3 linked regions of the Homo sapiens genome follow. The protein of the gene in region 1 purifies or fractionates together with the protein of each later gene. This does not show direct contact. Each region holds a gene or a part of one and is shown on either strand. Other genes may lie near its edges.

Evidence for each region.
Region 2: the proteins of PCDHB7 (region 1) and KIAA0319L purify together in Homo sapiens (affinity purification with mass spectrometry; 2 studies listed by BioGRID and IntAct, with this or other methods). This does not show direct contact.
Region 3: the proteins of PCDHB7 (region 1) and ST7L purify together in Homo sapiens (affinity purification with mass spectrometry; 2 studies listed by BioGRID and IntAct, with this or other methods). This does not show direct contact.

The regions. Positions count from the first base shown.
Region 1 is NC_000005.10:141,170,322-141,174,077, reverse strand, and holds the start of PCDHB7 (protocadherin beta-7 precursor), read right to left. Parts: upstream 1,435-3,756; 5' UTR 1,243-1,434; coding exon 1-1,242. UniProt on the Homo sapiens protein: Potential calcium-dependent cell-adhesion protein. May be involved in the establishment and maintenance of specific neuronal connections in the brain.
Region 2 is NC_000001.11:35,508,802-35,512,557, forward strand, and holds part of KIAA0319L (dyslexia-associated protein KIAA0319-like protein), read right to left. Parts: intron 1-3,756.
Region 3 is NC_000001.11:112,584,499-112,588,254, reverse strand, and holds part of ST7L (suppressor of tumorigenicity 7 protein-like), read left to right. Parts: intron 1-3,756.

The sequences.
Region 1 (3,756 bases):
GTTCCTCTCTCGATCCAAAGGTTTCTCTGTTACCAGAGTATAGAAGTTTTCGACAGATGGCTTCAGGATGAAGGGGACATCGTCCTGGATGGAGCACACTGTCTTTCCATTGTTCCCGGAATCTCTGTCTCTAATCCTAAAAACAGCCACGACTGTCTCGGGTGAGTTTTCTGCAATTGGGCTAGTAAGTGAAGACAGGAGCAGCTCGGGTCGATTATCGTTTATATCTGTTACATCAACCACTACAGTGCATTTTCCAGAAAGCCCGCCGCCGTCTTTGGCCTGAATAGTTAATGTGTAAGTTTGAATTGCCTCATAGTCCAATTGCGCTTTAAGATGAAGACTGCCAGATGTTGGATTGATTTGAAACGTTTTGAGAATTCTTTCAGTGGCGTAAGAAAATGCATAGGCTATTTCCCCATTACTTCCGGTATCTAAATCTCTGGCTGACACGGAGACAACCATGGAACCAACGGGGCTATTTTCGGGCACCTGCACCTTGTAGAGCGACCGCACAAAATCAGGGGCGTTGTCATTTACGTCTAGAACCAGAATGCGCACGAGGGCGGTCCCTGATCTTGGAGGAGAGCCGCCGTCTAAAGCGGTGAGGGTTAAACTGAACTCTGGTATCTCTTCCCGATCCAGCACTTGATTCAGCACCAATTCGGGATAGATATTCCCCTCCCCGCTATCATGGACATTAATATGGAAATAGGCATTGGGGCTGATGGTGTAGTTACTCAGGCTGTTGGTTCCAACATCTGAATCCTGTGCACTCTCTAGGAGAAATGCCGCCCCTGGAGTGGTACTTTCTAATATTTTCAAGGAAATCTCTCTGTCTAGAAATACTGGAGCGTGATCATTGATGTCTCTGACCCATAGTTCAGCACGGAAAATCTGAAAAGGTTTTTCCAATAACAACTGGAAAGGCAGCACACAGGGCTCTCTGGGGCCACACAGTTCCTCTCGGTCCAATTTCTCATTTAGAAGTAGATCACCAGTAAGCGAACTGAGCAGTAAAATTTGCATGTTCTGGTCTGAAACAATTCTAGTTCCCCGGGCTCTCAGTTCCCCTACCCCTAACCCTAGGTCTTTTGCCAAGTTGGTAAGAAAGGTGCCTCTCTCGGTTTCCTCCGCCACAAAATACCGAAGCGGTTCGGCGCCAGCCCAAGACATTCCCAGAAATACACAAAGAAATAAGACTTGCCTTTTCTGCACAGCACGCTCCACTCTGGCCTCCATTCTTCTTTGGATCAGTCTTTCAAAATGACTTTCACTCAGCCTCCAGCGGCTCTCACAAATGGCAGCAGCGGAATCCTTTGAAATGAGCTGAATAATAGCAATGTTTGTGGGGAAGGATCCTCATTTTACCCCAATTCCTATTACCACTGTTTCCTTTCCTATGCTTTTCTCTTCAGATTGCCTCTTTGCTCTGGAATCTGTAACATCCTTTCTTTGTGAAATTATTTTTCTCTCTCTCTTTTTAGCCAGCAGCGCCACCTTGCGTTTTGTGGATGTTATTCCCGTTATCAAGACTAGAACAAAAAGATGGCGGATTGAAGGAATTCTGCAACAAGAATGATTTGTCCCCGGTATCTTTGCTGTTTCATTCCATCTTTATCCTCAAATGGTCACAGTAATGCTAGTAAGTAATAGCTGATGTCGTTTTCCCCTGTGATAATCTGGATTCGTAGAAGAATTAATTTATAGTCTTCTTAAATCTAGGAGCATGAAACTAAACTCTGACTCCCCACCGAAATCCTAAGAAAATCTCCTATTTTAAAAATGGATAGTAAAAATATATATGAGAAAATGAAACCTCCTCCTTGAAGTCAACAAATATTGGTTGGGGACATTTTATTTATTTGTAAAGTATTTAACAATAATAATGTGAATATGGCAGAATAATTGACCCTTTTCCCAATTTCTTGTGAATTAAACAATTATTCCACTTTCCAGGTCTTAACTCTTTACCTGTGATATTTCTTGGAACACTTTATGCCTCCCCCAAACCCAACCTTCATCCTTCACCTGATTTAAGTATTACATAAGAAATTATTGTTCCTCTATAATTTCAGTGACTAGAATCTCCAATGTCCAATGAATACTCTTAAAATTAGTAGTAGCAAGTTGGTCAATCTTGCATTTGTGGAAGTGCTTCTAGCATTTCATCTTCAACTATGATGGTTGATCTCAATTTGGGGTAAATATTCCTTTTTTGAATCAATAAAGTTTTCTTTTTATTCTTTCATATTTTGAAGTGATTTTTGATAGCTGTTGAAATAATACATTTATTCTTTAGTTTCTAAATTACTGAGTTATTGATATAAATGACATTTAACCATAATGTATTATTGTTTTAGTGCACAGATAGATATGATGTGTCAACATGGTTTTAGGATTTTTCTAGTTAATGTTGTTTACCTAGTGCGTGTTTGCCTTTTATGGCCTTGGTATTAAACTATTATACTGGCATCATAGAATGTGTTAGGGAGCTTTTTATCTATTTTATACAATAGTTTTAATAATTATATTATTATATGTTTCTACATGCTTAATTCCAGCTTGTCTTTTAAACTGGTTGGGTTTGGTGACTTCACTTGCAGTAGATCAGTGACTACCATTTACATTTTACCTTTGGTTATTAATCTGTTCAGGTTTTGTATTTTTAAGTAACTTGCATTTTATTTTGAAAATCATTTTATCTAGTTTGCAAATTTCTTGGAATTGTTTTCATTGCGTTATTTACCTTTAATTGTATCCCTATTTTTATTAGTGATGTTTAGCATTTTAACTCCTTTTTATTCTTGGTGAGACTTGCAAGAGCTCTACTTTACTGATATTTTGAAATGCATTTTTTTCAAAATAATATATGACCTTGGTCCAAAATTAAATAGCACTAAGAGGCTTGTTCTGCCCTTTTCCTCCTCACTTTTCTTAGTTCCCCTTCTAAGAGGTAGCCATTTTAAAACTCTTTTAGTTATCTCTTCAGTCACTAATCTGTTTTCTGATATATTTTGATTAATTAATTTTAGAAATTATCAATTGACTGTTTATTATGTTAGATTACATTTTAGGTATTTTAGATTTTCTTTTACTTACCATATATTGGGAACATTATTGTGTATTAATTATGTTTTCTTTTTCAATTTTTTTGTGATTTTAATAATTATCTTGCCTTTTCATTTACTTGATTTTTTTTATCCCTATCACTTATTCATCCCACAGATACAATTGCCTGTCAGTGCAATTTTCCCCATAGTCATTTCCATTCCTCCTGAGACTTCAATTTTTCTTTAAATTGGGTGGTTGCTTTCTGTGCCTACTGCACAGCTATCATTCTGGATTTTTTTCTTTGCTGTCATTCTTGGAATTCTTTGCCTTTTATTCTGGATGTGTTTGCTATTTCTGGGATTTTATAACTTGCCCTTTTTCAGTTTACTCTATGGCATTACTAGAACACATCCTCCAATAGGTTCATATGATTGAAAAGATGATACAATGTTAAGAGGATTGCTAATGATATCCTTCAAAATCTCTGTCTCTTGAGTCAAACAGCTCCTTACTGGACTAGTTGTTCATTATGCTCAGTTGTCATCCTTGGATCATCCTTCAGCATCACCTGGAGATTCATTTCACTTCTGTCCTGTTTTGGATCTTCTAGTTTCTGTTTCTTCTGTCTTCTCCTGTCTTGAATTAGGTTCTCATTTTGATAGATACCTTCCAGTAGTTTTCGGAGAAGGGTGTTTCAGAGTT
Region 2 (3,756 bases), on another chromosome or scaffold:
TTCTTCTCATAACTATTTTCTCATACTTAAGAGGTCAACACAGATGAAAATTATCTGTGCTTTTTTCTAAGCTGATATATTATTTAATTTTTAAAAATGCAATACAACTTCCACTTCTGCTCTTGAAGAAGGAATTGCTATGGGGCTTGCCTTCCCACCATGAATAACTAGAAAACTAGACAAAATATATAAAGCAACTGTTTTTAGACACTGGACAACAGGCAGTGCAGGACTATGATCCCTGAAAGGAAACAAACCAGGTGAGCTCTATGAATCCCTTGGCTTTCTGCTGGAGGCATGCTCCAGACTGTGGCACAGGCAAGAAGAAGGCAAGCATAACAGGGCAGTTGCTAAATTGAGGAGACGGAGTTCAGGGTGACTGGTAGTTAGAATGTTTAAACAAAGTACCAGAAAGGAGGAAGCTACACAGAGAAAGAGCTTCAGAAATCTGAACAGTAGTCACCTTCAGTTTTGGCTGAACACTGATTTACTAAGGTATAGGTTGAAACTGCATGAGGGAAATTAGAAAATATTTTGAACAGAATGAAAATAACACAATATATAAAAATGTGTGGGATACAGTTAAAGCAATGTCTAGAGGGACATTCGTAATTTTAAATGCTTATTTCAGAGAAGAAAAGTCTATAAAATCAATGATTTAGAGAGACACATGGAGAAAACGACATGTGATGACAGAGGCAGAGATTGGAGCAATACGGCTGCAAGCCAAGGAAAGCCAGGATTGACAGCAACCACTAGAAGCTAGGGGGAGGCAAGGAAGGAATTCCACCTCCAGTCTCCAAAGACATCAACCCTTCTAACACCTTGATTTTGGATTTCTAGCCTCCATAACTATTAGCATACACAGGGTTCTCTGCTCTTATCTGGGAGACAGTTCAGGAGACAGATGGCCCAAATCCAGGGATCACTAACATCTGGGGATGTGGCTGTGGCCTGCACCCAGGTCGAATGGAGATAACCTAATAATACACTTAACAGGACCTGTACAGCCATGTGATGCTGGAAAACTATGGGAATCTTGTGCCTGTGGGTTTCTCTCTTTCAAACCAAAACTAATCACCCAACTGCAGCAAGGAGCCTGGATGGAGGCGTCAGAACTGCGTCAGGTACCTCTGCAGTCCAGGAGTACTGGTTTGAAACAAAGATCTTAACCCTAAAGCAAAATACTCTGAAGTTCTGCAAGAGCAAACAAAAAGTGTCATGATAGAAAGAGGCCTGGATTGAGAGGGAGGAGGTTCCACAGAGATGCGGTGCTATAAATGAAAAGAATGTGGGAAAGTACAATTCGAATACAACTCTTCCTCTTTTAGCCACCAGAGCAATCATACTAGTGAGAAACCCCATAAATATAAAGAATGTGGAATAGTCTTCATGAGCAGACTATCCTACTATCACCCCTTTCAAATCATCATAAGCTCACACAGGCGAGCAACTTTACAGATGTACTGAATGTGGCAAATTCCTCAAGCACTCAACATTTATTAATCATCAGAGAACTTATTCTAGAGAGAAATACCAATAAACGTGAAAAAGCTTTCAGAAAAAAACAGCCCTTTCTTTTTTTTTTTTTTTTTGAGAAGGAGTCTCACTCTGTCACTGCAGAGCAAGGCGTGAGCCACCACGCCTGGTCAAAACTGTCCTTTCAAGTCATCAGAGAATTCATACAGTCAGGAACTCTACAAACACGACTGTGGGAAACTGTTCAGAAGGCAGTCGTTACTCATCAGGAGAGAAAACACAGTGGAGATAAGCCTTTTAAAAACATTTATTTATTTATTTATTTATTTATTTATTTATTTATTTAGAGACAGGTTCCCACTCTATTGCCCAGGCTGGAGAGCAGTGGCACATCATGACTCGATGCAGCCTTGACCTTCGGGCCCAAGCAATCCTCCTGACTCAGCCTCCCAAGATGCTAGGACTACAGGTGAGCATCACTGTGTCTGGCTAATTTTTTAACTTTTTGTCAGAGATGGGGTCTCCCTATGTTGCCCAGGCTGCTCTTGAACTCCTGGGTTCAAGCAATCCCCTGACCTTCGCTTCCCAAAGTGTTGGGATTACAGGTGTGAGCCACTGCGCCTGGCTGAAAAAAAAAAGCCTTTTAAATGTAAGGAATGTGGGAAAGCTTTCAGAGATAACTCAACTTTGTTGGAGCATCAGAAAAACCATCTTAGTGAAAAAGTACATTGGTGTAATAAATACAGAAAAGCCTTTAGTAAGAGCTTGACTCTTATTAGTCATCAAAGATTTCATACAGGAGAGAAACTCTATCACCATATTAAATGTGAAATCTTTTTCAGGTATAGAAAGATTTGCTGGGCAAATCTCCTTTGCTGGGCATCAGAAAACTCATAGTGGAAATAAACCCTATCAGGGCAATGACTGTAGGAAAGCCTTTACAAAGAGCTCAACTCTTATTGGACATCAAGGAATTCATACTGGGGGGAAAAAAAAACAAAAAACCAAAAACCTTTCACTATAAGAAATGTGGGAAAGCCTTCGGGTACAGCCAAGGCCTTGCTGAAAATCAGAAAATCCATATCTTATGAATGTAATGAATGTGGGAAGCTTTTCCCCAAAGTTCAGCCCTTAAACAACATAAGAAAATTTATAACAAAGTCATCAAGCCAGGCATGGTGGCTCATGCCTATAATCCCAGCACTTTGGGAAGATGAGGTGGGAGGACCACTTGAGCCCATGAGTTCAAGACCAGACTGGGCAACATAGTGAGACCCCATCTCTACAAAAGATAAAAATTACTAAAAAATAACATTTTTAAAAAGAATGGGTCATCAAATGTAGTGTGGTAAACATGCAAAAGTAGTTTATTTCTTCTGACCATCAAAGAGGAGATATTTAATAAGTGCACCGCTATCTAGAAGCCTTCTCATTTGTAAGGATGTTCACTGTAGTATGGTTTGTATTAGTGAAATAGCTGAAGAACCTAAATGTCTGTCAGTATGGAAATAGTTGCTGCAGAATACTATGTACCATTTGAAAGAAATGGCATAGAATTTTATATACAGCCATAGAAATATCCCCCCTCATAACTTAAGTGGAAAAAGCAAGTTGCAGAAAATCTATATATTATGTTCTTATTTATATTTTTAACAATGAAGCTATTTTTGTTTGTCCACATATATTACCTGGATTCAAAAAGATCTAAGCCAGGCGTGGTGGCTCATGCCTGTAATCCCAGCACTTTGGGAGGATGAGGCAGATGGATCACTTGAGGTCAGGAGTTCGAGACCAGCCTGGCCAACATGGCAAAACCCCGTCACTACTAAAAATACAAAAATTAGCCAGGTGTGGTGGCACACATCTGTAATCCCAGTTACTCAGAAGGCTGAGGCAGAAGGATTGCTGGAAATGGGAGGGGGAGTTGCAGTGAGCCAAGAGCATGCCACTGTACTCCAGCCTGGACAACAGAGCAAGACTCTGTCTCAAAAAAAATAAATAAATAAAATAAAATAAAAAGATCTGGAAAAATAAAAGCCAAACTTTGACCAAAAAAAAAAAAAATCAATGATCTTTGCTTCCATCATAAAATCTGGGGAAAAAAAAGAGTAAATTAAACCCCAAAGTAAGTAAAGGAAAGAAATGATAAAGAGAAGAGTAATCGAACAAAAAACAATAGAGAAAAATCAAGGAAACAAAAGCCTAGTTGTTCAAAAGATCAATAAAGCTGATAAATCTCTAGTCGGACTGACCACGGGAAAAAAAAGGAGTAGTCAA
Region 3 (3,756 bases), on another chromosome or scaffold:
AGAAATAAAACTATCTCCATTCACAGATGGCATGATCTTATTTGTAGAAAGTCTTAATCCACAAAGAAACTATTAGAGCTAATGAAAGTTTACAAAATTGTGAGAAACAAAATCAACATATGAAAATCAGTTGTATGTCTATATCCTAGCAATGAACAATCTGAAAAGGAAATTAAGAAAACAATTCCATTTACAAAAGCATCAGAAAGATTTAAATACTTAGGAATAAATTTAATCAAGGAGGTGCAAGACTTGGATGCTGAAAACTATAAAGCATAAGTTAAATAAATAAATCAAAAGACATCCCATGTTCATGGATTGGGAGACATTATTGTTAGAATGTCAGTACTCCCTAAATTGATCTACGGATTCAGTGCAATCCCTATAAAAATTTTAATTATCATTTCTGCAGAAATGGACAAGGCGATCCTATAATTCATACAGAACTGCAAGAGACCCTGAATACCAAAACAATCTTGAAATAGAAGCACAAAATTAGAAGACTCACACTACACAATTTAAAAACTTACCGCAAAGCTACAGTAGTTAAATTACAAGGATAGACACCTAGATCAATGGATTCAAATTGAGATTCCAGAAATAAACCCATATTATCTATGGTCAGTTGATGGTTTTGTTTTGTTTTGTTCTGAGACAGAGTTTCACTCTTTTTGCCCAGGCTGGAGTGCAATGGCACGATCTCGGCTCACTGCAACCTCCACCTCCTGGGTTCAAGTGATTCTTCTGCCTCAGCCTCCCAAGTAGCTGGGAATACAGGCACGTGCCACCATACCCGGCTAATTTTGTATTTTTAGAGTAGAGACAAGGTTTCACCATGTTGGCCAGGCTGGTCTTGAACTCCTGACATCAGGTGATCCACCCACCTCAGCCTCCCAAAGTGCTGAGATTACAGGTGTGAGCCACCACGCCTGGCCATGATTTTTGACAAGGGCGTCAAAACCATTCAGTGGAGGAAAGAATAGTCTTTTCAACAATGATGGTGGAAGAACTGAATAGCCACATACATAAAAGCATAAAGGTGGTCCCTTACCTCATACCATATATCCCAATTAATTTAAAAATCAATCAAGGACCTAAATGGAAGAGTTAAAACTACAGAACTCTTAGAAGAAAGCATAGGGACAAATCATCATCACCTTGAATTTAGCAGTGGTCTCATAAATTATAACACCAAAAGTACAAGCAGCAAAAGAAAAATCAGGTAAATGGACTTTATCAAAGTTAAAATATTTTATGCATCAGAGGACATTGTCAAGAGGCAGAAATAGATTTGGGATTGCCAGGGATTGAGGAGGCAAGGGAGATGGGGAGTGACTACTTAATAGGTATGAAGTTTCTTGTGGGGATGATGAAAATGTCCTGGAATTACATTGTGGCGATGGTTGCACAACTCTGTGAATATATTAAAAATTATTGAATTGTATACTTCAAAATGCTTTAAACTGTGAACCTTGTTATTTGAATTTTACCTCAATGTAAAAAACCAACATTCTTCAAAGTAAGATTAATTAGGTATTCACATAATGAATTTCCTGAATTAGTATCCATATAAAATACTTTTGAACAAATCCAAGAAAACTTTAAGGGGGAAAAAATCTTTTCACCATATATCCATACAGTCATTAAAAGTATATACATTCAAAATATAAGCATATAATTATGTTTATATTTTGATTTATACCCATCTAGGTCTTTTAAAAACTGTTTTTATTATGGTTATTTTAAAATATTTCAGTCGGTTTTTGGAATGGCAGTCAGGAAGCCTAGTGTTTTTGATTTTTGTTTTTGTTTAGAGACAGGGTCTTGCTCTGTTGCCCAGGCTGGAGTGCAGTGGTAGGATGATAGCTTCATTGTAACCTCAAACTCCTGGCCTTAAGCAATCCTCTTGCCTCAGCCTCCAAAGTAACTAGGACTACAGGTGCACACAACCACACCCAGCTAATTTTTAAATCTTTATTATTATTGTTTTATAGAGAGAGGGTCTCGTTGTGTTGCCCAGGCTAGTCTCGAACTACTGGCCTCAAGTGATCCTCCTGCCTTGGCCTCCCAAACTGCTGGGATTATAGCCATGAGCCACTGTGCCTGGGCAGGAAGGCCAGTGTTTAAAGCAGCAGTGTATCTAATGCTTCACAGGGATCTAGTGTAATGTAATGGAGAAATCTTTGTTGATTAGTGAAATTGTTATGTATTATAGGGTCTTCTTATTTGAAGGATGATGAAATGGTATGATTTGCATTTTCTATAACTGAAGAACGTTTTTGTCCCCACTTAACGATAGCTACCTGCCATCACTTTTGTTTAATGCTTGGTCTTGTACGTTTATCAATAATTTCTCTCCTCTTGCTGAGATAAGCACTAATTATTAGAAATATAATGCAAGCCACATATGTAACTTTAAATTTTCTAGTAGCCACATTTAAAAAGTAAAAAGAAATAGGTGAAATTAATCTGAATAATGTTTTATTTAGCTATATTCAAAATATTAATTTTTTTTTTTTTTTGAGACGGAGTCTCACTCTGTCACCCAGGCTGGAGTGCAGTGGTGCAATCTTGGCTCACTGCAAGCTCCGTCTCCCAGGTTCATGCCATTCTCCTGCCTCAGCCTCTCAAGTAGCTAGGACTACAGGCACCCGCCACTGCGCCCAGCTAATTTTTTGTATTTTTTTTAGTAGAGACAGGGTTTCACCGTGGTCTCGATCTCCTGACCTCGTGATCCGCCCGCCTCGGCCTCCCAAAGTGCTGGGATTACAGGCATGAGCCACCGCGCCCGGCCCAAAATATTAAACTATTTTAACATATAGTCAGTACTTTTCTAAAATCTGTTAATGAAGAACTTTACATTCTTCTAAGTCTTCAAAATTCGTTGTGCATTTTTACACTTGCATCACATCTCAATTCAGACGCATCACATTTCAAGTGCTCAATAACCACATGTGGCTAATGCCTAGAATACTGGACAGTGCCGTCTTAGATAATCACAACTAGGATATTGTCTGTAGAAGAGATGGATTTGTTATTTCTGGGAATGGAATAACAACATTTTGTTTCTCTTTGTGGCCCCAAAACAAGCATTAGTTTATTAGCCAGGTGTTGACTTAAAAGATACAAAGAAAAGCCTCTGTGTTTTAGTGGGGTGAAGAAAAGAAAACTTGGCATAAGCATAGTTTTGAGGAATGAGAATAGGAGTGTAGGAGGAAGGACCTGAATTCAGAACAAGGGAAGTTATACTGCATAATATTGTGGATAAGTCCATGTGTGGATGGGACAGCATGCAGAGGGGAGTACTCAGATTTGGGGAAAATGTCTAGTCCTGGACTATGTTTCTGAGTCAGATGTTAAAAGTGCCTAGTTGGCCAAGGGACTATCTTCCCAATCTTCACCCTCCCCATACCTGCCCCATGAAATGGATGTCATAAATTATATAGCGACTAAAAGCAGGTATGATCAACCGGGCATGGTGGCTCACGCCTGTAATCCCAGCACTTTGGAAAGCTGAGGCAGGTGGATCACCTGAGATCAGGAGTTCTAGACCAGCCTAGCCAACATGTTGAAACCCCATCTCTACTAAAAATACAAAAATTAGCCGGGCGTGGTGCTGCATGCCTGTAATCCCAGCTACTCGGGAGGCTGAGGCAGGAGAATTGCTTGAACCCAGGAGGCCCAGGTTTCAGTGAGCCAAGATTGGGCCATTGCACTCCAGCCTGGGTGACAAAAGCAAAATTCCATCTCAAAAAA